Regions from separate parts of the Homo sapiens genome. Here region 2 is linked to region 1. Evidence: fine-mapped expression QTL. A gene starts in region 1. The other region holds a variant in brackets. All regions are shown on one strand. Distances are from middle to middle.

Region 1 (10,434 bases):
GCGGAGTTTGCAGTGAGCCAAGATCCTGCCACTGCACTTCAGCCTGGGCTACAGAGCAAGACTCCATCTCAAAAAAATAAAAAATAAAATAAAATAATTGAAAAGAAAGGCTGAGTGCAGTGGCTCATGCTTGTAATGCCAGCACTTTGGGAAGCAAAGGTGGGCAGATCACTTGAGTTCAGGAGTTCAAAACCAGCCTGGGCAACATGTTGAAACCCTATCTCTACAACAAATTAGCTGGGCATGGTGGTGCATGCCTTATAGTCCTAGCTACTTGGGAGGCTGAGGTGAAAGGATGGCTTGAGCCTGGGAGGCGGAGGTTGTTCTCCATCCTGGGTAAAAGAGCCAGACTCCATCTCAAAAAATAAATAAATAGAAAAAAGTTTCTTATAAAGATCCTTACCAAAATATTTATGGATGGAATGATGTAATTTCAGGTATCTGCTTCAAAACATTGTGGAGGATAGATATTTTGTTTTGTTTTAGAGATGAAGTCTCGCTATGTTGCTCATGATGGTCTTGAACTCCTGGGTTCAAGTGATCCTCCCACCTTGGCCTCCAAAAGTGTTGGGATTACAGGCGTGAGCCAGCATGATAAGCCAACTATGATTTTAGATGAAACAAGATTGGCCAAGAGTTGATAAGTGCTCTAGTTTAGTGACAGGTAGACAGAGGTTCATTATATTCTTCTCTCGGGTTTGAATTTGCCATAACAATTAGAAAAAAATGTACTTCACTTATAATACAAACAAAATTCCATTTAAATATGCTGTTGAGCACAACAAAAGCTCAGGGTAAAAAAGCTATTTCTAAGTGTCAACATACTATAATAATCCTTTTTAAAATTAGTTACAATAAATCCTCTACCAGTAAGAGAACAATAAAATGTAGACGGAAGTAACCTTGTATCTGTCTACTTTATGACTTTGAATCTAAGAGGTTCATGCCAATTGTAGAATGTTTAAATAAATGTCGGAGGGAGTATATTTTAGGAGTATTCAAATATGACAGATTGAGAGGGATCAATTTATTTCACATGCCTCATTAAGAGTAAAGTTAAGGCCTGGTGCGGTGGCTCACACCTGTAATCCCAGCACTTTGGGAGGCTGAGGCAGGTGGATCACAAGGTCAGAAGTTCGAGACCAGCATGGCCAACATGGTGAAACCCCGTCTCTACTAAAAATATAAAAATACAAAAATTAGCCAGGCATAGTGGCGTGCGCCTGGAATCCCAGCTACTCGGGAGGCTGAGGTAGGAGAATAGCTTGAACCCGGGAGGCGGAGGTTGCAGCGAGCCAAGATCCCGCCACTGTGCTCCAGCCTGGGTCAGAGCAAGACTCCATCTCAAAAAAAAAAAAAAAAAAAAAAAAAAAAGAATAAAAAGAACCCGAGTCTGCTGTCTCTAAAATTTATGCTCTTTTAGCTGCATCATTAATCATCCTCTTAATTCATTCTCTGACCCCATCTAGGTAATGAACCTACACTTAGAAAAAAATCAAGTTGTCTTGAGCTGTGCCATTTCATAACCCTCTTCGTAAGTCCCATATAGCTCATCTTACTCCACAAATACAGAAACACATGGGGCTTTCCCTCTAGTTTTTTTTTTTTTTTTTTTTCAGACGGAGTCTCGATCTGTCGTCCAGGCTGGAGTGTAGTGGTGCGATCTTGGCTCACTGCAACCTCTGCTTCCCAGGTTCAAGCCATTCTCCTGCCTCAGCCTCCCAAGTAGCTGGGACTATAGGCGCTTGCCACCTCGCCCCCCTAATTTTTGTACTTTTAGTAGAGACGTGGTTTCACCATACTGGCCAGGCTGGTCCCGAACTCCCGACCTTGTGATCTGCCTGCCTTGGCCTCCCAAAGTGCTGGGATTATAGGTGTAAGCCACTGCACCTGGCCTTCCTCCAGTTTTTTACAAAGCATCTAAACAAGCATTGTCTAATAGGAATATAATGTGAGTCACATATGTAATTTTAAATTTTCTATTCATTTTGCTTTTTTTTTTGAGGAAGAGTCTCGCTCTGTTGCCCAGGCTGGAGTACAGTGGGATGATCTTGGCTCACTGCAACCCCCGCCTACCAGATTCAAGCAATTCTCTGCCTCAGTCTCCCAAGTAGCTGGGATTACAGGCGCCCGCCACCACGCCCAGCTAATTTTTGTATTTCTAGTAGAAACAGTTTCACTATCTTGGCTAGGCTGGTCTTGAACTCCTGACCTCGTGATCCATCCGCCTTGGCCTCCCAAAGTGCTGGGATTACATGCATCAGCCACGGCGCCTGGCCTAATTTTGCTTTAAAAAATAAAATAAAAACAGGTGAAATTAGTTTTTAAATATTTTATTTAACCCAATATATCAAAAATGTCATTTCACCATGTAATCAATTTTTTTTTTTAAGACAGAGTTTCGCTCTCGTTGCCCAGGCTGGAGTGCAATGGCGTGAACTCGGCTCACCACAACCTCCACCTCCCGGGTTCAAGCGATTCTCCCTCCTCAGCCTCCTGGGATTACAGCCTAGCTGGGATTACAGGCATGTGCCACCATGCCCGGCTAATTTTGTATTTTTAGTAGAGACAGGGTTTCTCCATTTTGGTCAGGCTGGTCTCGAACTCCCGACCTCTGGTGATCTGCCTGTCATGGCCTCCCAAAAGTGCTGGGATTATAGGCGTAAGCCACCGCTCCCAGCCGTAATCAGTATTTTTTTTTTTTTTTTTTTGATACGGAGTCTGTCGCCCAGGCTGGAATGCAGTGGCGCAATCTCGGTCACTGCAAGCTCCGCCTCCCGGGTTCACGCCATTCTCCTGCCTCAGTCTCCTGAGTAGCTGGGACTACAGGCGCCCGCCACTATGCCTGGCTAATTTTTTGTATTTTTAGTAGAGACACGGTTTCACCGTGTTAGTCAGGATGGTCTCGATTTCCTGACCTTGTGATCCGCCCGCCTCGGCCTCCCAAAGTGCTGTGATTACAGGTGTGAGCCACCACGCCCGGCCCGTAATCAGTATTTGTAAATGATTAATTTTTCTGTACTAAGTCTTTGAAATCCAGTGTGTATTCTGTGTTCACAGCATATCTCAATGCAGATTTAATAATATATAATAGCTACATATGACTAGTGATTACAGTATAGGACAGCACGGGTCTAGATTCATTAGCCTCCTCTCCAAGAGCACATTCAGGAACCTTCTGCCTCTGGCCCCAGAATACACCCAATTCCAAGCAGGCAATTGCTCCTTCTTGCTTTGTCCCCTTTGGGTGGGAAGGGGACTCCTATAGCGATAGGGAGTGTCTTTTATTCAGGAAAAAGAAAGGGAGCTGTGGGTCTAACTCCGTTTTTGAAGTTTGTCCAAGCTGCAGAAATCTTCCTGGTTACTGGACAAAGCAACTAAGAATTCCTATATTTTAACCGTAACGTTGAATCAAACTGGTCAGAATGAAATGAATTGTCTCAATGTTAAAGCCAAAACTCAAAATTGAGGAGCCTTGCAATACCAAATTCACTGACTACTTTATTGTCACTTGTAAATCATAGTACAGGCAGGTCGCAAAGTTTACCAGGCAGTATTCAAGTACATAACATTCTAGTTGTGTTTTTCTCCAGTTTCTGGGGTTACTGAAGAATTAGCCCTGGCATAGCTTATTACAAACTAACCATAATCGCAAACTTAAAAGTTCTAATATCAAGCGTGGGCAACATACTAAGGCCTCTACAAAAAATTTAAAAATTAGCCGGGAGTGGTGCTGTGTGCCTGTAGTCCCAGCTACTCCGGAGGGTGAGGTTGGGAGGATAGCTTGAGCCAGGAAGGTAGGGGCTGTAGTGAGCTATGAGCGCACCAGTGCACTCCAGCCTGGGCGAGAGCAAGACCCTGTATCAAAAAGTTCTAATATCTAAAAGGATTGTAGTTTATAGTATGTTATTCTCACTGTAAACCAAAAGGTTATTTTTTTCTTTTGTCCACTACTAGATACATCTTTCTTAGCCTCACTTCACTTGTACAAGCCACCTGGGAGAAGTGGCCCTCAGGAAGATCCTAAAACCAATACACAAATACAACTTTTTCATTTCATTAATACATCAAGTTCATATAAGAGTCAAACAGGTAAAAGCAGCATCCCAAACTGTTTTCTCCTCGTACATGTCAGTTCCACGATCCTCAGTCTCATAAAGTCAGGGACTAGAGACCAATGTAATTATCAATACGTACCTGCCTTTGAGTGAACCTTCAATGCCAACTAGGAAGGGCGCTTCCAAAACGACGTTATTTGTAACTCCTAGGAAGACAAACACGGGTCAGAACCCATACTCTGCGGGCCTTGAAATGGAAAATCTCTCCTCTAGACAGACTCATCCTGGCCGTAAATATCAGGAGACTCCCCGATTCCCTGCCCCATCCCCAGGCCAAGGAGTTATTTGCTTCCAACTTTTCATCCCGTTTTCTTCCCCAGGTGGTTCTCCGCCACCCGGTGGAGAAAGCGGGAACACCCTCTCGGGCTAGCCTCTGCCTTTCCCGAACGCTTCACTGCACTCACTGGAGAAGACCACGGCCCCGAGGGACCGCGACAGGTCCCAGGCGAGGTGCACCGAGTCGGCGAGCACTGCGTGACACTGTGCGCACTGGAACACAGCGCACCTCTCAGGCTGCAGCCAAGACGGCAGCTGCGGGCCGGCGGCTGGCTCCTCAGCCCCCAGCCCTGCGGGGCCGAGCGGCGAGGACCCCTTCACCACCTGCGTATCCCACTCCATGGAGGTCGTAAAAGAAGCTTGGTCAATCGCCCTCTCAGTGCCACCACAAAAGTCCCCCCGGGGCGGCGTTGCACAACGTGAGCGATGCCGCAGCGGCTGAGCCGCCATCTTCCCGCAGCCGGCGCCTTCCTTTCGAATACACGCCAGGCCCCGCCCCAAGCACAGCTCCTGCGTCCTCATTGGACATCATGGGCAATCCAAGCACTGGAGTCCGAGTCCGCGCACTCGTTACCTGAACAGGCGTTACAGGCCCTTTGGCGCCTGCGTATTCGTGAAGTGTGAAAAAAGCGCGCCTCTGTTGGGACGGGAAATCAGCCTTTCTATTGGTCAGGGTTAGAAACCCCGCCTTTGAGGCATTTTCAACCAATGGAAGCGCGGCATTCTTCATTTAAACTGTCTATAAATTTCTGCCTAGTCAAAGTTAAGAGTGGCGCCAGGGATTTGAACCGCGCTGACGAAGTTTGGTGATCCATCTTCCGAGTATCGCCGGGATTTCGAATCGCGATGATCATCCCCTCTCTAGAGGAGCTGGACTCCCTCAAGTACAGTGACCTGCAGAACTTAGCCAAGAGTCTGGGTCTCCGGGCCAACCTGAGGGTACGGCGCTGGCGGTGCGGGTCCCTGGGCGGGCGCGGCGGGAATAGCGGCCTCGGGGAGATGCGGTGCGAAGGGACCGAGAGGGAAGCCCGGGACTGAGGCAGCTCTCCCTGCCCCTCGGGCAGTAGATGTGGTTCACGGTAGTCCCAGTTAGAACTCTGATAAACGGAAGAGGAACTGTAGTTTTCACCTCATTTTGAAGCTGGCTTGTCTGGGTGCTCACATGATAAGCTCTATTCCGAGGGATGGTTTATTGTTTTTTGTTTTGTTTTGTTTTGAAATTACTGTATACCTCTCAGGGCGTCGATTACGAAACTCAGGCCCAGAAAGCACAAGGGGTGTCGTTAATCGTTAGACAATTAAGTAAATAATTGGCTCAGCTTCTGGAAAACCCCAAACAGACTCCAGTGATTTGTAATATTGCCGATAATCTCTTGATACTTTATTGATGGACCTGTCAGAAAAAAAAAATCGACTTTTAGGGGAGCACCTCCTTGGGTAAATTTTTATTGATGACTGTTGGGTTGATGGTCTCTATCAAAACCAGTAAGGTCTTTGACTCCGAGGCTACAAGATGTTTGGAGAGTTGGCCCGGCGCTGTGGCTCACGCCTGTAATCCCAGCACTTTGGGAGGTCGAGGCAGGCGGATCACCTGAGGTCAGGAGTTCGAGACCAGCCTGGCCCTTAAAAAATTAGCCGGGCGTGGTGGCACACGCCTGTGATCCAAGCTTTTTGCCTGTGATCCCAGCTACTTGGGAGGCTGAGGCAGAAGAATCGCTTGAACCTGGGAAGCCGAGGTGGCAGTGAGCCAAGATCGCACCACTGCACTCCAACTTCGGTGACAGAGAGAGACTCAGTCTCAAACAAAACAAAAACAAACAAAAAACCCAAGATGTTAGAAGAAGATTTGGGGATTTAATGTAGGATAGCGGTTTTATATATTTTGTTAATAGTTGAGACTTCCCACATAATACTGCTATATACTCTGGAGGTTTCTCCTGCAGGCTGTGATACTGACAGTGAGTAAATGCTTAAATCAATCGTCACAATTTTTTTTTTATTTGTTTGTTTGTTTGTTTTTTCTTTGAGACGGAGTCTTGCTCTGTCGCCCAGGCTGGAGTGCAGTGGCGCCATCTCGGCTCACCGCAACCTCCGCCTCCTGGGTTCAAGCGATTCTCCTGCCTCAGCCTCCTGAGTAGCTGGGATTACAGGCGCGTGTCACCACGCCTGGCTAATTTTTGTATTTTTAGTAGAGATGGGGTTTCACCATGTTGGTCAGGCTGGTCTCGAACTCCTGACTTCCTGATCCGCCCGCCTCAGCCCCCAAAGTACTGGGATTACAGGCGTGAGCCACCCCACCCGACCTAAATTGTTTAAACAAAATAATCAGGGCCTAAGTGCCTGTTGGGGCTGAATGACCAAAGGGTTTTCCTTGGGGATATTTCTGGGCTGTAGTGGTTAGTGGCTCCTCTATACTTCGTAAACAAAGCCTTAATATCTCAGCCTAAATTCCTTAGGCTTTTTTGCTGCCTAGCTAGAATCTTTTATCCAAGGCTGCATCCCTGAACACTTGGCACTTTTATCTATCTTTGTCCCATTGCTCATTTTGACCCTCTAGCCTCAGATCACCTTCTTTCTCCTTTATCTGCCTGGCTGTGTGTGTGTGTGTGTATTTTTAGTAGAGATAGGGTTTCACCATCTTGCCCAGGCTGGTCTTGAACTCCTGGGCTCAAGCGATCCTCCCGCCACGGCCTCCCGAAGTCCTGGGATTACAGGCGTGACCCACCACGCCTGGCCCATATCAAGTATTTATATGTGAATCAAGTATTTATAGGTGAAATGTTATGATACCTGTAAAATTTGCTGTAAAATACTCAAGGAAAAAGAGAGGGAAACTAGATGAAGTAAGAACAGAAGAATGTTAATAATTACTGAAACTGGAGATAGGTACATGGGGGGATTGCACTATTCTCTCTACTTTTTTAGGTTTGAAATTTTCCATAATAAGATGTTTTAAATTATTAACTTGGTACAACCTAAGAGCTCATTAAGTCAATTGCCTTTTGAAATTTTAGTACATAGCAAAAAAATTAATAAATTGCTCTGAGAAATTATCAAGATTTGATTAAAATGAAACACTACAATTTAAATAAATTTTACTAGCATAAATATACTAGTATAATTATGCTAATAAAATTTATAATTTATACTAGTATATACTATATATATTATTACTAGTATAAATATATAATATATATACTAGTATATATAAATATACTAGGATACTAAATATACTAAATACACTAAAATAAACTAAATATATAAATATACTATATATACTAAATATACTATATTAATATACTATATGTACTAGATAAATATACTATAAATATACTATATAAATATACTAAATTTACATATTTAGTATTTAGTGTGTATTAGTATATATATTTAGTATAGATATACTATATACTAAATATACTATATATACTAATATGTATACTAAATATATTTAATATACTAAATATATTATACTATAAATAAATATAAATACTATACTTAATATACTATATACTAAATATACTATATATAAATATATTAAATATATAAATATACTAAATATAAATATACTAAATATAGTATGTATGTTTAGTATAAATATACTAAATATACTATATTTATACCGGTATAATATACTAAATATGCTATATTTATACCGGTATAAATATACTAATATACTATATTATACTGGTATAAATATACTAAATATACTATATTATACCAGTATAAATATAAATATACTAAATATACTATATTTTTATGTATACTAGTATATTTGTACTAGTAAAATTTATTTAAATTGTAATGTTTTATTTTAATCAAATCTTGATAATTTTACTAGTATGATATTATTAAAAATAAATTTATGGCCGGGCATGGTGGCTTGCACCTGTAATCCCAGCATTTGGGAGGCCAAGGCAGGTGTCTCACCTGAGGTCAGGAGTTTGAGACCAGACTGGCCAGCATGGCAAAACCCCATCTATACTAAAAATACAAAATTTAGCCAGGCGTGGCAGGGGGCACCTGTAATCCCAGCTACTCGGGAGGCTGAGGCAGGAGAGGAGAATTGCTTGAACCCAGGGAGGCAGACGCTGCAGTGAGCCAAGATCACACCATTGCACTCCAGCCTGGGCAACAAGAGCGAAACTCCGTCTAAAAATAATAATAATAATAATAATAATAATAAATATATAGGAGATAATATTCCCTCTTTTGAGAGACTTCTCTTAATGGTATAGCAATTTGAAGGAGCCAGTTATTAATGTTAGTGGGGCGACTGGTCCTGTTGTCACTCATGCCCTCACTTCCTTTCTTGCGAGCTTAAATTACAAACACTGGCACTATTTCCACTTCCTTGCACCTCCCTATACTCACCTGGCAAAACCCAAGCCTGATTAAACCCAGCTATGTGCTTAATCTTTGCCTATACCTCTGCAGCTAACTCTAGTTGGAGAAAACACCTAACTTTGTTGAGCGAACTTATTTTAAATATGCAACGCTAAACCTTAATATGGGCATTTGATCCTCCTCCTTTTGGTTTTTTTTTTTTTTTTTTTTTGAGATAAGGTCTCGCTCTGTTGCCTAGGCTGCAGTGGCACAATCAGGCCTCACTGCAGCCTCAACCTCTCAGGTTCAAGACATCCTCCCACCTCAGCCTCCTAAGTAGCTGGGATTACAGGCACGTGCCACCACACCTGGCCCATTTTCTTCTTAGTCATGAACTTTCCTACTTTTGAGGATAATTACTTTTTATCATCTTGACTCAACTTGGTTCCCTTCCCTCCCTTGATGACTTTACCTCATAGGTCATGGGAAAATAGATGCAATCAACAGAAAACTGCCTTATCGTTCAACCACCAAATCCCCCCCTTTTTTTCCTTTCCTTTTCTTTTTTTTTTTTTTTTTTTTTTTTTGAGACAGGGTCTTGCTCTGTCAGCCAGCCTGGAGTTCTCTGGAGTGCAGTGGCACAATCAGGACTCACTGCAGCCTCAACCTCCCGGGCTCAAGCAATCCTCCCACCGCAGCCCCCTGAGTAGCTAGGACTACAGGCATGACCACCCTGCCTGGCCAGTGTTTTTTTGAATTTTAGTAGAGATGAGGTCTGACTATGTTGCCCTGTCTGGTCTCCAACTCCTGAGATTCAGCGATCCTCGCGCCTTGGCCTCCCAAAGTGCTGGGATTACAGGCGTGAGACCCTAGGCTTGGCCCCACCACCAAACCTTTTAGCCACCCTGCATCTACATCCACATACTCTGCTTCTTTGCCTGTCTAAGGGCAACCTTTCCATTTATGCTGAAGATCCTGGGCCCTCTTGCTTCCCCTAGGACTACATTCCTACAATTAGAGCCTCTCTCCTCATTAATTTCTCCACTCTGCTAGCTTATTTGCCATAAGGCATGCAATCATGTTTTACTATCACCCATCTTTTAAAAAAATAAAAAAGCCAAAATCCTCTCCTGATCCCATGTCCTCATTCCATCTACTGCCCTATTTCTCTGTTCTTTTCTACTGAAATTGCTTTATTAAGGTCGCCATCTTACAAAGCTTGTGTTCCCTCTCTCCCCTCACCTGTGCCTATCAGTAGCATTTGGCATGATTGAACATTCCCCTCTGCTCCAGGCACTTTCTGTTCTAGGCTTTGATATTTCACGCTGTCCTGCCTTACTAGCACTTCTTTCTAGTCTCCTTGGTTGGTTCTTCATCTGCCAGATCTCTAAATGTGGAGTGCCCCCAGGGCTCTCTTCCTGGTTGTCTTTTCTCTAACTATGCTCTATCCCTCGGTGATCTTATCCACCCCATTTTTTTTTCTTTTCTTTTTTCTTTTTTTTTTTTTTTTTTTGAGTCACAGTCTTGCTCTGTCACCCAGGCTAGAGTGCAGTGGCGCAATCTCGGCTCACTGCAACCTCCACTTCCCAGGTTCAAGCGATTCTCCTGCCTCAGCCACCCGAGTTCCTGGGATTATAGGTGCCTGCCACCATGCCCAGCTAATTTTTTTGTATTTTTAGTAGAGACAGGACTTCACCATGTTGGCCTGGCTGGT
Region 2 (10,434 bases), 150 kb after region 1:
CTAAACAGGCCTGACTGCTGTAGCTGTGTAACTTCCCCATTCCCACCTACTCTTCCCATCCTTTCCCAACTTTGGAGAAAACTCCCCAGTTTAGCCCCCTGACCTGCAGGCTGTGTCCTGGCAGGTGTGGGAGGGAAGCCCATGGCCAGGTACCAGGGAGGGCAGTGAATGTCTTGCTCTTCCCATGGGTACAGCCCACAGCTTCTTGGCTGAACGTAGAACTTCTTTTTCTCACCCAGTATACCAGCCTCTTCCTGGTGATTCTGTTTTGCTGCTTTGGCAAGAACTACATTTTGTTTTTAAGAGAAATTTCTGAATATGAATGTGGAGAGCAAACACAAAAAGATTTAGGTTACGCCGGGTGCAGTAGCTCACGCCTGTAATCCCAGCACTTTGGGAGGCCTAGGCGGGTGGATCACCTGAGGTCAGGAGTTCAAGACCAATCTGACTAACACGGTGAAACCCCATCTCTACTAAAACTACAAAACTTAGCCGGGCATGGTGGTGCGTGCCTGTAATCCCAGCTACTCGGGGGGCTGAGACAGGAGAATCCCTTGAACCTGGGAGGCGGAGGTTGTGGTGAGCCAAGATCGTGCCACTGCACTCCAGTCTGGGTGACAGAGTGAGACTCCGCCTCAAAAAGATTTAGGTTGCAAATGTTTCAAGCATGTGCAGTTTTGTGTGTGTGTATACATATATATGGTCAGCATATATATTGTGCAGCTAGGGCGAAGCCAGCAGAGGTGTGTGTATGTCTTTATGAAATGTTTGAAAAGAGATAAACTGACTGCTTGATAATCACTCTCAGGTGTAAAGCTCCAAGTGTAAATAAAAGTGGCATTTAACAAATCTTTCAGAACAAAGTACAGCTGACTATATATACCAAGAGCTAAGCTAAAGGAACAGCTGAGAGCTCCGATCTCCACGAGAGACTAATCTAAAAGCTCTGCTTTGTACTTCCTCACCCTGCTTTCGTACAAGGAAGGGGGACGATGGGAAATCATGGACTTGTAAGTTGTATTTAAACATAAAAATGAACTTGGTAACTTCTGGGTTTAGTAGAGCCTCAGTGTCGCTTTAACTTAGTTTACTTTTTTTTTATTTTTAAAGCAGCAATGGATGGTTTTAAAGGAGTATTATGATTGTAAAATTGCTAAATATGACTGTAACACAGCTTTGTGGTAGCTGTGACACAGTTCACTTGGGCAAAGGAGTGGTGATGGACTCGTTAAAATCATATATACTTGAATAGTCCATTGACCGAAACTCTTTATAGACTATTGTGTAAATGTGGAATCACAGACTGTTAACATTGCCTGGACTTCAGCAGAGTCCTGGAGCTGCTGGGACCTCTCCTATCATGATGAACTTGGACTTTTTTTTTTGATTTCTGGTTTTAAAAAACATAAAATTATAGAATCCAGATAATTCGCTGGAGTCATTCTGATCCACCATGTAGATCTGTATTTAGTATCATTTGGATTTGGAGAAGTGTTGATTACATTATGGCTGTGTAATAAAATTTTTATTAAAACTGCATCACACTGTAGCCACTTTGCCACCACCTCCCCACATGTAGCCGCTGAAACCCCCACGAGATGCCAATGCACACAGCAGGGAGAAAAGCCAACCAAAGAAGACCGAAGGGTATCTTTCCACCCGAGTAGCCTCTGTAGTGATTGGGACCAAGACTAAGGACTTGTCTCCAATCTCAGCTGAGGCAGTGCCTCTGAACCAAGATCTTGGTCAGGCATTAAGACACTGGCTTTGTCCTACCAACTAGGATTTCTTGGTGGTTCACACTATTTCTTGTGCTGGGGAATTCCCTCATTGGGCCCCTCCTCCCTCCACAGTGTGGTTTCAGTGTTGAAGGGTGCAGCACCCAAGGTTGTTTTTATGCATTTTTTCAGTTCCTTCCAAGAAGCAAAAAGGCCAGTGTCCATCTGCCTAGTTCATAATGTTTATAGGTCTGTTTGTCTGTCTTGCTTCTGGCAGGTGTAGGGAAAGTCTACTGCCTGCCACTCCCTTCAAAAAGAATGTTTTTGCTTTTGTGAAGTCCTGACTTGCCACTCAAACTGTACCAATATTGTAAATAAATGTTATGCCATTTTAACAAAGGGATCAGATTGAGTCTAAGGATTGCATCCTGAGTGGCAACTCCTAAAGCCATGTTTTGAAAGTCCAAGAGAACCTCTCTTGCTCCTTTTCCTTCTTCTCTTAGCCCTGTGCCCACAAAAGTGAAAGTGGCCATCGTCAACTCTTTAGCAGCCTGGTTCCCCGGAAGCCTCTCTGGTAGGGTAGTTGCCTAGACCCAAGGAAACCTCCAGTTGTCCTGGTTTACTTCCTGTCTTGGTAAGAGACCAATAAGTTTTAACAGAGCTAAGTAGACCCCTGATGTACTGCCTAACCCTAGTGAGAATCTGGGCCTTTCAACCTTTTTTTTTTTAGCTGGGGTCTCTGCTGTCTAGGCTGGAGTGCGGTGGTGTAATCACAGCTCACTGCAGCCTCAACCTCCCGGGCTCAAGTGATCCTCCCACCTCACCATTCCAAGTAGCTGGGACTACAGTCATGCACCATCACACCCAGCTAATTTTTAAATTTTCTGTTGAGACGGAATATTGCTATGTTGCCCAGGCTGGTCTTGAACTCCTGGCCTCGAGTGATCCTCCCGCCTCAGCCTCCCAAAATGCTGGGATTGCAGGCATGAGCCACTGTGCTCAGCTCCTTTCAACTTTAAATTGGCCTAGGCACAGTTTCTTTGCTCTTCTTTTTTCTGGCTATCATGAGTTTGAAGGGGGTGCCCAAGGGCCATGAGTGTGGCTATGGAGGAAACACTGATCTTCCTTCATCCACGCACCCCTCATGCTGGGGAGGTCTATAGGCCTCCCCATCCCCAGTGCCTGAGGCTGTGTCTCCAACCTTTCTGAACACATTTTAGCTAGGAAGCAAGAAGATCCTGGATCTTCCACACCCTTTAAGAAGGCAAGGGATGGCAATCACAGTGATAAGAGCCACGTCCAAGACCGCTTCTGGTGGTGGAGAGGTTGCTTACCTGCAAGTGCGTCCAATGAGGTTTTCTCCAACTCCCCAGCACTCCCACTACCTAACTGGTGGGAGCAGTGGGACCTAGAGAGCAGGGGTTCTGGGCAGATGACAACATAGCTTGCTTATCTTCCAGGATTTGGGTGCTGTGGGGCAGCCACTTGCTACCTATCTCTGAGAATCCAGAAAGAACACCTGGGGTGCAAGTGGAGAGAAGAAGGGTGCTGGGTTGGTCAACTTCATCTCCCTGGCCACGTTTTTCCAGAAGGGAGATCTTCCTTCAGTAACTATAATGTGGCTGTGATCCAGCAGCCTTAGGAAGCCATCAACTCCCAGCTCAAATTTTTTTCACGATTTCCCTGACTTAAGCGGAGACTGCTGAGCTCCCTTGGCAAGGAGGGTGTTAAGGAGCTGAAGGGAATGGCAGTGCTAAGACAGGGCCAAAAGGCATGCCTTCTCTAAGGTTCCACAGGCCAGCCCCAGGGAACATGGAGATACGGCTTTTAGGCACTGGAGCATAGATAGGCATGTCTAGGGCTTCCAGACCATGCTCAGGATACAAGGGAGGGCCAAGAGCCAAAAGGCACCCAGGCTCGGGAAAGGGTTCAGATCCCCGCTCTGCCACTTGCTATTACCTAGGGCTGAGCTACTTAACACCTTTGAGCCACAAGTTTTCCACCTTTCAAAAAACAACCTGTCCCCAGTAGGGGTCCAATAAATGCTGTTGTTAATGAGAGTGAAGCCGCTGGACCCTGGAGGAGAGGAACGGCCCTTGGAGTGGGCTGATGGAGGGCGGAAGCACTGGGCAGTGGGCAGGACCAGAAACTCCACTTGGGCTGGGGTTGGGAGGGGGGGAAGAAACCCTGACTCCAGATGGAGGCTCCCACTGGGAGACCCTGGGCTGGCCTAGGGATGCGTCCAGAGAAAGTGTGCTGCCTCTGGGCCAGGCCCTCGTTGCTGTCATTCCCCACAGGCCAACGCACACCACCTTTACTGACCAGGCTTCTGAAGGCGTTGAAGGCTTGCCACCTTACCACCCTCCAGCTGGCCCCAACTGAGGCCCGACCTACCCACAACCCCCAAGAGTAGTGAATACTCAAAATAGCACCAATAGTACCAAACCAGAAGGTAAGTGTAAAAGAAGCACAACAAAGCTCTGACCCTTCCCATGATGATTACCTTGATACTTCTTCAAAAGATAGATACTTTTGGGCC[C/T]TGCACCATGGCTCCTGCCTGTAATCCCAGCACTTTAAAAGGCCGAGGAGGGAGGATCGCTTGGGGCCAGGAGTTCGAGACCAACCTGGTCAACATAGCGAGACTCCATTTCTTTTTTTCTTTTTCTTTCTTTCTTTTTTTTTTTTTTTGAGGTGGAGCCTCGCTCTGTTGCCCAGGCTGGAGTGCAGTGGCGCAATCTCGGCTCACTGCAACTTCCACCTCTCAAGTCCATGCAATTCTACTGCCTCAGCTTCCCAAGTACCTGGGATTACAGGCATGTGCCACCATTCCTGGCCAATTTTCGTATTTTTAGTAGAGGTGAGGTTTTACCATGTTGGCCAGGCTGGTCTTGAACTCCTGACCTTGTGATCCTCCCGCCTCGGCCTCCCAAAGTGCTGGGATTACAGGCGTGAGCCACCACGCCCGGCCTCTATTTTTTTTTTTAATCGAATACTTTTGATTTCTTTTTCTCTTTTAGCCATGGATAGCCCTGCTTCGCTAAGCGCGTGCGATGCAGCACAGCCCTTCACCTGGCAAGCCCGGAAGCCTCAGGTTGACTCCATCAGTTTTGCCGGGAGAGCCCTTCGGCGCTCCCCGCTTGGTGTCTCCACCACCCCCCGCACCGGCCTGGGCGCCACCCTTGTCCGCGCCAACGGTCCCCGCATCCCTGGCCCCGTGCGCCTCCTGCGCCGTTAGCGCCCAGTCCACGCAGCAAGGGAGGAGGCGCGCGGCCGCTGCGTTCCAGGGCGCTCTGCCCTCGTTCCCCACTCCGGGCCCGCAGCCTCAGAGCCAGGGTCCCAGTGGCCCGGGGCCTGCATGCGTCTCCAGCCGTGGATCCCCCGGGGCGCGCGCCTTGGGAGTTGAGCTGGACCCCGGCTCGCACGCGGCCCACGCGGAGACGCATGGGCACTACGGTCCCAGACCCCGGGCCACTGCATGCTCTGTGGACTCGGTCCCCAGGCACACCCGAGGTGTGGAGGTCACGCCTGCAGGCGCAGAGCTCACAGATGGAATTAGGAGGCGCCTCCTAACCCCCGCCTCCCCCCATCACACGCCACCATGACTACACGATGCAGGGACCCCCGACGACGTCCCAGGCATTCCTACAGTGGTCGCCTCCACAAGCTGAGTCCCTGACCTCAGACCCTTCCTGTCCCCTTCACCTCCCCTCGCACTGGGTGAGGTTCTGAGGGTTCTGAGTTCTGGAGAAGAAGGAGGATCACAGGAACACAGGCTCCTGAGTGGGATCGGAAACCTTGTTTCTGAAGTGTAAGGAGAGAATATGTTCTTACTGCGCACACACAGGTGTGGTGACACATTTTGTTCGTTTTAGACAAGAGTGACTCAGACTGTGGAGGGTCAATGAACACTGCTAGATCCTGAGCCCTGCTGAGGTAACCTTGCACCCATCCCTGGATATTCCCACAACGTCTAGTCAATCCATTTATGAGGTCAGAGATTGCCGGGAAGGAAGGGAAACCTAGAGGCCAGGAAAAGAGGCTGGGGCTGGGAGCTGAGGGCTCGCCTGTCAGGTGAAGACCCATTCACGCCTCTTTCCAAGAGAAAGGAGACCCTCACCTCTCTCCCATTCTCACGTGTCCACTGGGCTCTGGCCAGCCCTCCAGCACCCTCTCTGGTAGGCCCTGACGGAGAAGGACATCGAACCCACCAGAGGTGAGGAATGTTTTGGATGCAGGAAGCAGCTGAGAAACCAAAATTCCCAGCGCGCACATTGACAACCTCTTGGAAAGGGAGGGAAGGCAGCCACTGAGCGTCCCAGGGCCTGTTTTCTTCTTGGGCCCTTTCTGGTTTCCTTCCTCGGTAAGACAATGAAAATGATACACTATCACTCCCGGAAACGGGCGGGGGCATCACAGGATCCACGCATTCCTGTGTCCTTTGCACCTAGCACAATAGCAGCTGCTCCATGGAAGTGTGTCTGCTCTGTGAATGCATGAGTGAATCACAGGTATTGTCACAGAATAGTGGGGTCTTAGGGTCATAAAGTCCCTTGGAAGGGCACCAAGTCCCACAGTGCATGTCTGGGAGTTGTTACTAGAATAAGACCTTGCACCACCGGGTCCAGTGGAACATGACAGCCCAACCCCCTCTCACCTCCCCACTCCTACCACACACACACACCCCACACACACTACACACACCACACTCACACACCACACCCACCACACACACACTACACACACTCACACACCACACACACCACACTCACACCCACACCTACCACACACCACACCCACCACACATGCCACACTCACACCACACCCACACCACATACCACACACCACACACACACCACATGCAACACACAACACACACATACCACACGTGCGCCACACATACATGCCATATACACCACAAACATAACCCCCCACACACACCACACATGCCACAATGACACATACCACACACACACTAGAGAGGCTCTGCTCCTGCTGGAGAAGACTTGAAGTCTCCTCAAAGGAACAGATGCTCCATTCAGGAGCACAGGTCAAAGGCTGTGCCTTCCCTTCTCTCCCCAAGGTGAAAGGCCCTGCTTGTCATCTTAGGAAGCAGAAACCAGCACTGTGCCTGGCAGAGGGTGATGAGTGGTGATTTTGCTCCTGCCACTGGTGCTGCCCTGGGGATGGGGTAGAGGTGGGCACAGCTATGAGGCAGGCTGGGGTGAGGACCCCAGAAACCCCTCACATCACACATCCCATTTTCCAGGCCCTTTTTTCTTCCCTAGTTTTGTACCTGAGGGTGATGTTTCTCTAGAAGAGATGCAGCCCTCAGTCATGATAAATCCTGAAATTTTTTTTTTTTTTTTTTTTTTTTGAGACGGGGTCTCTCAATCTGTTGCCCAGGCTGGAGGGCAATGGCTTCATCACGGCTGACTGCAGCCTCAACCTCCCTGGGCTCAGGTGATCCTCCCACCTCTTCCTCCTGAATACCTTGGACCACAGGCATGTGTCACCATGCTTGGCTAATTTTCTTATTTTTTGTAGAGATGGGTTTTCAGCATGTTGCTCAGGCTGGCCTCAAATTCCTAGGTTCAAGTGATCCTCTTGCCTGGGCCACCCAAAGTGCTAGGATTACAGGTACCAGTCACTGGGCCCACCCCTGAAGGTCTTTGATGGGGGTGAAGACTCAGGCACTTCAAGAAGCAGACCTCAGGCCAGGCGCAGTGGCTCATGCCTATAATCCCAGCATTTAGGGAGGCCAAGGTGGGCAGATCACCTGAGGTCAGGAGTTCAAGACCAGCCTGGACAACATGGAGAAATCTCATCTCTATTAAAAATATAAAAATCAGCTGGGCATGGTGGCAGGTGCCTGTAATCCCAGCTACTCAAAAGCTGACACAGGAAATTTCCTGAACCCAGGAAGCAGAGGTTGCAGTGAGCTGAGATCACACCAATGCACTACAGCCTTGGCAACAGAGCGAGACTCTGCCTCAAAAAAAAAAAAGCAGACCTGTAGGGAACAGGAGGATCAACCAACTGAGATACCACAAGAAGATAGGTTCTGGCTGGGCACAGTGGCTCACACCTATAATTCTAGCACTTTGGTAGGCCAAAGCAGGAGGATTGCTTGAGCCCAGGAATTCAAGACCAGCCGGGACAACAGAGTGAGATCCCTGTCTCTACAAAAAATTTAAAAATTGGCTGGGCATGGTGACACATGCCTCTGCCTGTGGTCCCGGCTACTCGAGAGGCTAAGGCAGGAGGATCACTTAGGCCCAGGAAGTTGAGACCGAAGTGAGCTGTGATTGTGACTCTGCACTCCAGCCTGGGTGACCGAGTGAGACCCTGTCTCAAAAATAAATAAATAAATAAAGGAAAAGAAAAAAGGTTATCTGCTCAGACATGTAAGCTGGCCTTGTGGCCAAGGCAGAGAGACTCTCATGGCCTATCTCAGAACAGCCACCTAATGACCATCAAAACCTTGACACACTGGCGGGGTGCAATGGCTCATGCCTGTAATCCCAGCATTTTGGGAAGCTGAAGGAAGAAGACTGTTTGAGGCTAGAGTTCAAGACTTGGCCAACATAGGGAGACTCCATCTCTACAAAAAGTTTTTAAAATTAGTTGAGCATGGTAGTGTGTGCCTGTGGTCCCACCTACTCAGGAGGCTGGGGCAGGAGGATCCCTTGAGCCCAGGAGGTGGAGGCTGCAGTGAGCCATGATGGCACACTCTAGCCTGGGTGACAGAGTGAGTGAGACTTTGTCTAAAAAAAAAAAAAAAAACCCAAAAACAAACAAAAAACAACCTTGACACATTCCTCTACACCCCAGTGTCCCCCTTTTCTGTTGTTTAATTTTTTAAAAACTGTCTCTGGCGGTCAGGCGCAGTGGCTCACACCTGTAATCCGAGCACCTTGGGAGGCTGAGGCAGGCAGATCACCTGAGGTCAGGAGTTCGAGACCAGCCTGGCCCATTAATGTAGTGAAGCCCTGTCTCTACTAAAAATACAAAAAATTAGCCAGGCGTGGTGGCACACACCTGTAATCCCAGCTACATGGGAGGCTGAGGCAGGAAAATCGCTTGTGCCAGCAGGTGGAGGTTGCAGTGAGCTGAGGTGGTGCCACTGCACTTCATCCTGGGTGACAGAGCAAGACTCTCAAAAAAAAAAAAAAAAATTTTATCTGGCCTGCTTAATGCTTAAGTGTTTGAACATCCCCACCATTTTTTTTTTTTGTGGCACTCAAGAGGCCATCCCTTCCACCTCCATACTAGTCAGTCTGATTTTTTCCACATCCCTTCTACTCAAGCATCAAAGACTGAGAAAAATGAGTCATAAAAGAACAGATGTTCTAGGGTTTCAACGTTTATTCCTGGCATGACTAAGAGGACGGAAGAGCCTGCTGACCTCATCCTACAGCTATACAGGGACTCCCAGGCCTTGCCCCAAGACGTACCCTTATGTTTTCTGACTGTAGTAGGTGGGGGCAGACTCTACCTTCAGAAGGAACTACAAGATGTTTCTTTGTTTTGAGATGGAGTCTGGCACTGTCGCCTAGGCTCACTGCAACCTCTGCCTCCTGGGTTCAAGTGATTCTCCTGCCTCGGCTACCCAAGTATCTGGCATTACAGGTGCCCTCCACCATGCCCAGCTAATCTTTGTATTTTAGTAGAGACGGGATTTCACCACGTTGGCCAGGCTGGTCTCGAACTCCTGTCCTCAGGTGATCCACCCACCTCAGCCTCCCAAAGTGCTGGGATTACAGGTGTGAGCCATTGCACCCGGCCAGGAAATACAAGATGTTAATGAAAGAATTTGAGAACATGAGCGAGGTGGCTCATGGCCATAATCCCAGCGCTTTGGGAGGCCTGGGTGGGCGGATCACCTGAGGTCAGGAGTTTGAGACCAGCCTGGCCAACATGGTGAAACCCCGTCTCTACTAAAAATACAAAAACTAGCCAGGCCTGGTGGCGAGCACCTGTAATCTCAGCTACTCAGGAGGCTGAGGCTAGAGAAGCAGGCTGAGGCTCTTGAAGCCAGGAAGCAGAGGTTGCAGTGAGCCGAGATCACGCCATTGCACTCGAGCCTGGGCGACAAGCACGCAGGAAGTCAGGGGACCTAGCCAGGATACACTGCCTTTTCCATCAACTGGCTGTGTGTCCTTAACCTCCCTGGTGGAGCCACTTAACCTCTTTGGTACTTCCGTAATGTGAATGAGGAGGATAGATGGATATAAGGCCCCTTACTGCTCTAAGAATCTATGGGATTGGATTTCAGTTCAGCATCCATTTCCAGGTTTGCGCTCATCTTTCCAATGAGAGACACCTGGGCAGGTAGAGCAAAGAGCAATTCTCTGGCTGCTGGTATAGTAGACCTAAGGCTTGAGCAAGTGCCTGATACAAGAAGAAAAGGAATTGCCCCTTTTTCTTGGCAGCCAGGACAGAGACCCAGTGCCCAACCTGCTTATACCTCCAACCCTGCCCATCCATCGCCTGACAGACAGGAGTGCAGGACAAGTTCTCGCCCCTCATTGCCCTCCCTACCTTTCCAGTTCTGGCAGTTCCTTGCAGGCTCTCCCCACCTTGGGTTTCCTCCCAGCCCCGTCTCTGAGGGCAGCACCTTCCCACATCCTGACGCAGGTCAGTGTAGCTGTGAAGGAGGCAGAGGAGTGAGTGTCTGAGACACGAGTGATCCAGGTCCTTCAAGCTGCAGAGTACA

The links.
Region 2: its variant is fine-mapped to the expression of NUSAP1 in whole blood (TOPMed, PIP above 0.99).

The regions. Positions count from the first base shown.
Region 1 is chr15:41,327,718-41,338,151 of GRCh38, forward strand. NUSAP1 (nucleolar and spindle associated protein 1) reads left to right here and starts at 5,164. Exons shown (of 11, transcript NM_016359.5): 1 at 5,164-5,333. The coding sequence starts at 5,241. It overlaps OIP5 (Opa interacting protein 5), which reads right to left and starts at 4,874. Exons shown (of 5, transcript NM_007280.2): 1 at 4,523-4,874; 2 at 4,198-4,264. The coding sequence starts at 4,844. RefSeq lists enhancers at 4,628-4,887, 9,022-9,643, 9,644-10,265.
Region 2 is chr15:41,481,443-41,491,876 of GRCh38, forward strand. RTF1 (RTF1 homolog, Paf1/RNA polymerase II complex component) reads left to right here. Exons shown (of 18, transcript NM_015138.5): 18 at 1-2,121. LOC105370790 (a long non-coding RNA gene) reads right to left here and starts at 4,927. Exons shown (of 3, transcript XR_932169.3): 1 at 4,788-4,927; 2 at 3,053-3,237. RefSeq lists enhancers at 2,232-2,281, 8,861-8,980, 8,949-9,243. The variant C/T (reference allele first, on the strand shown) is at 4,258.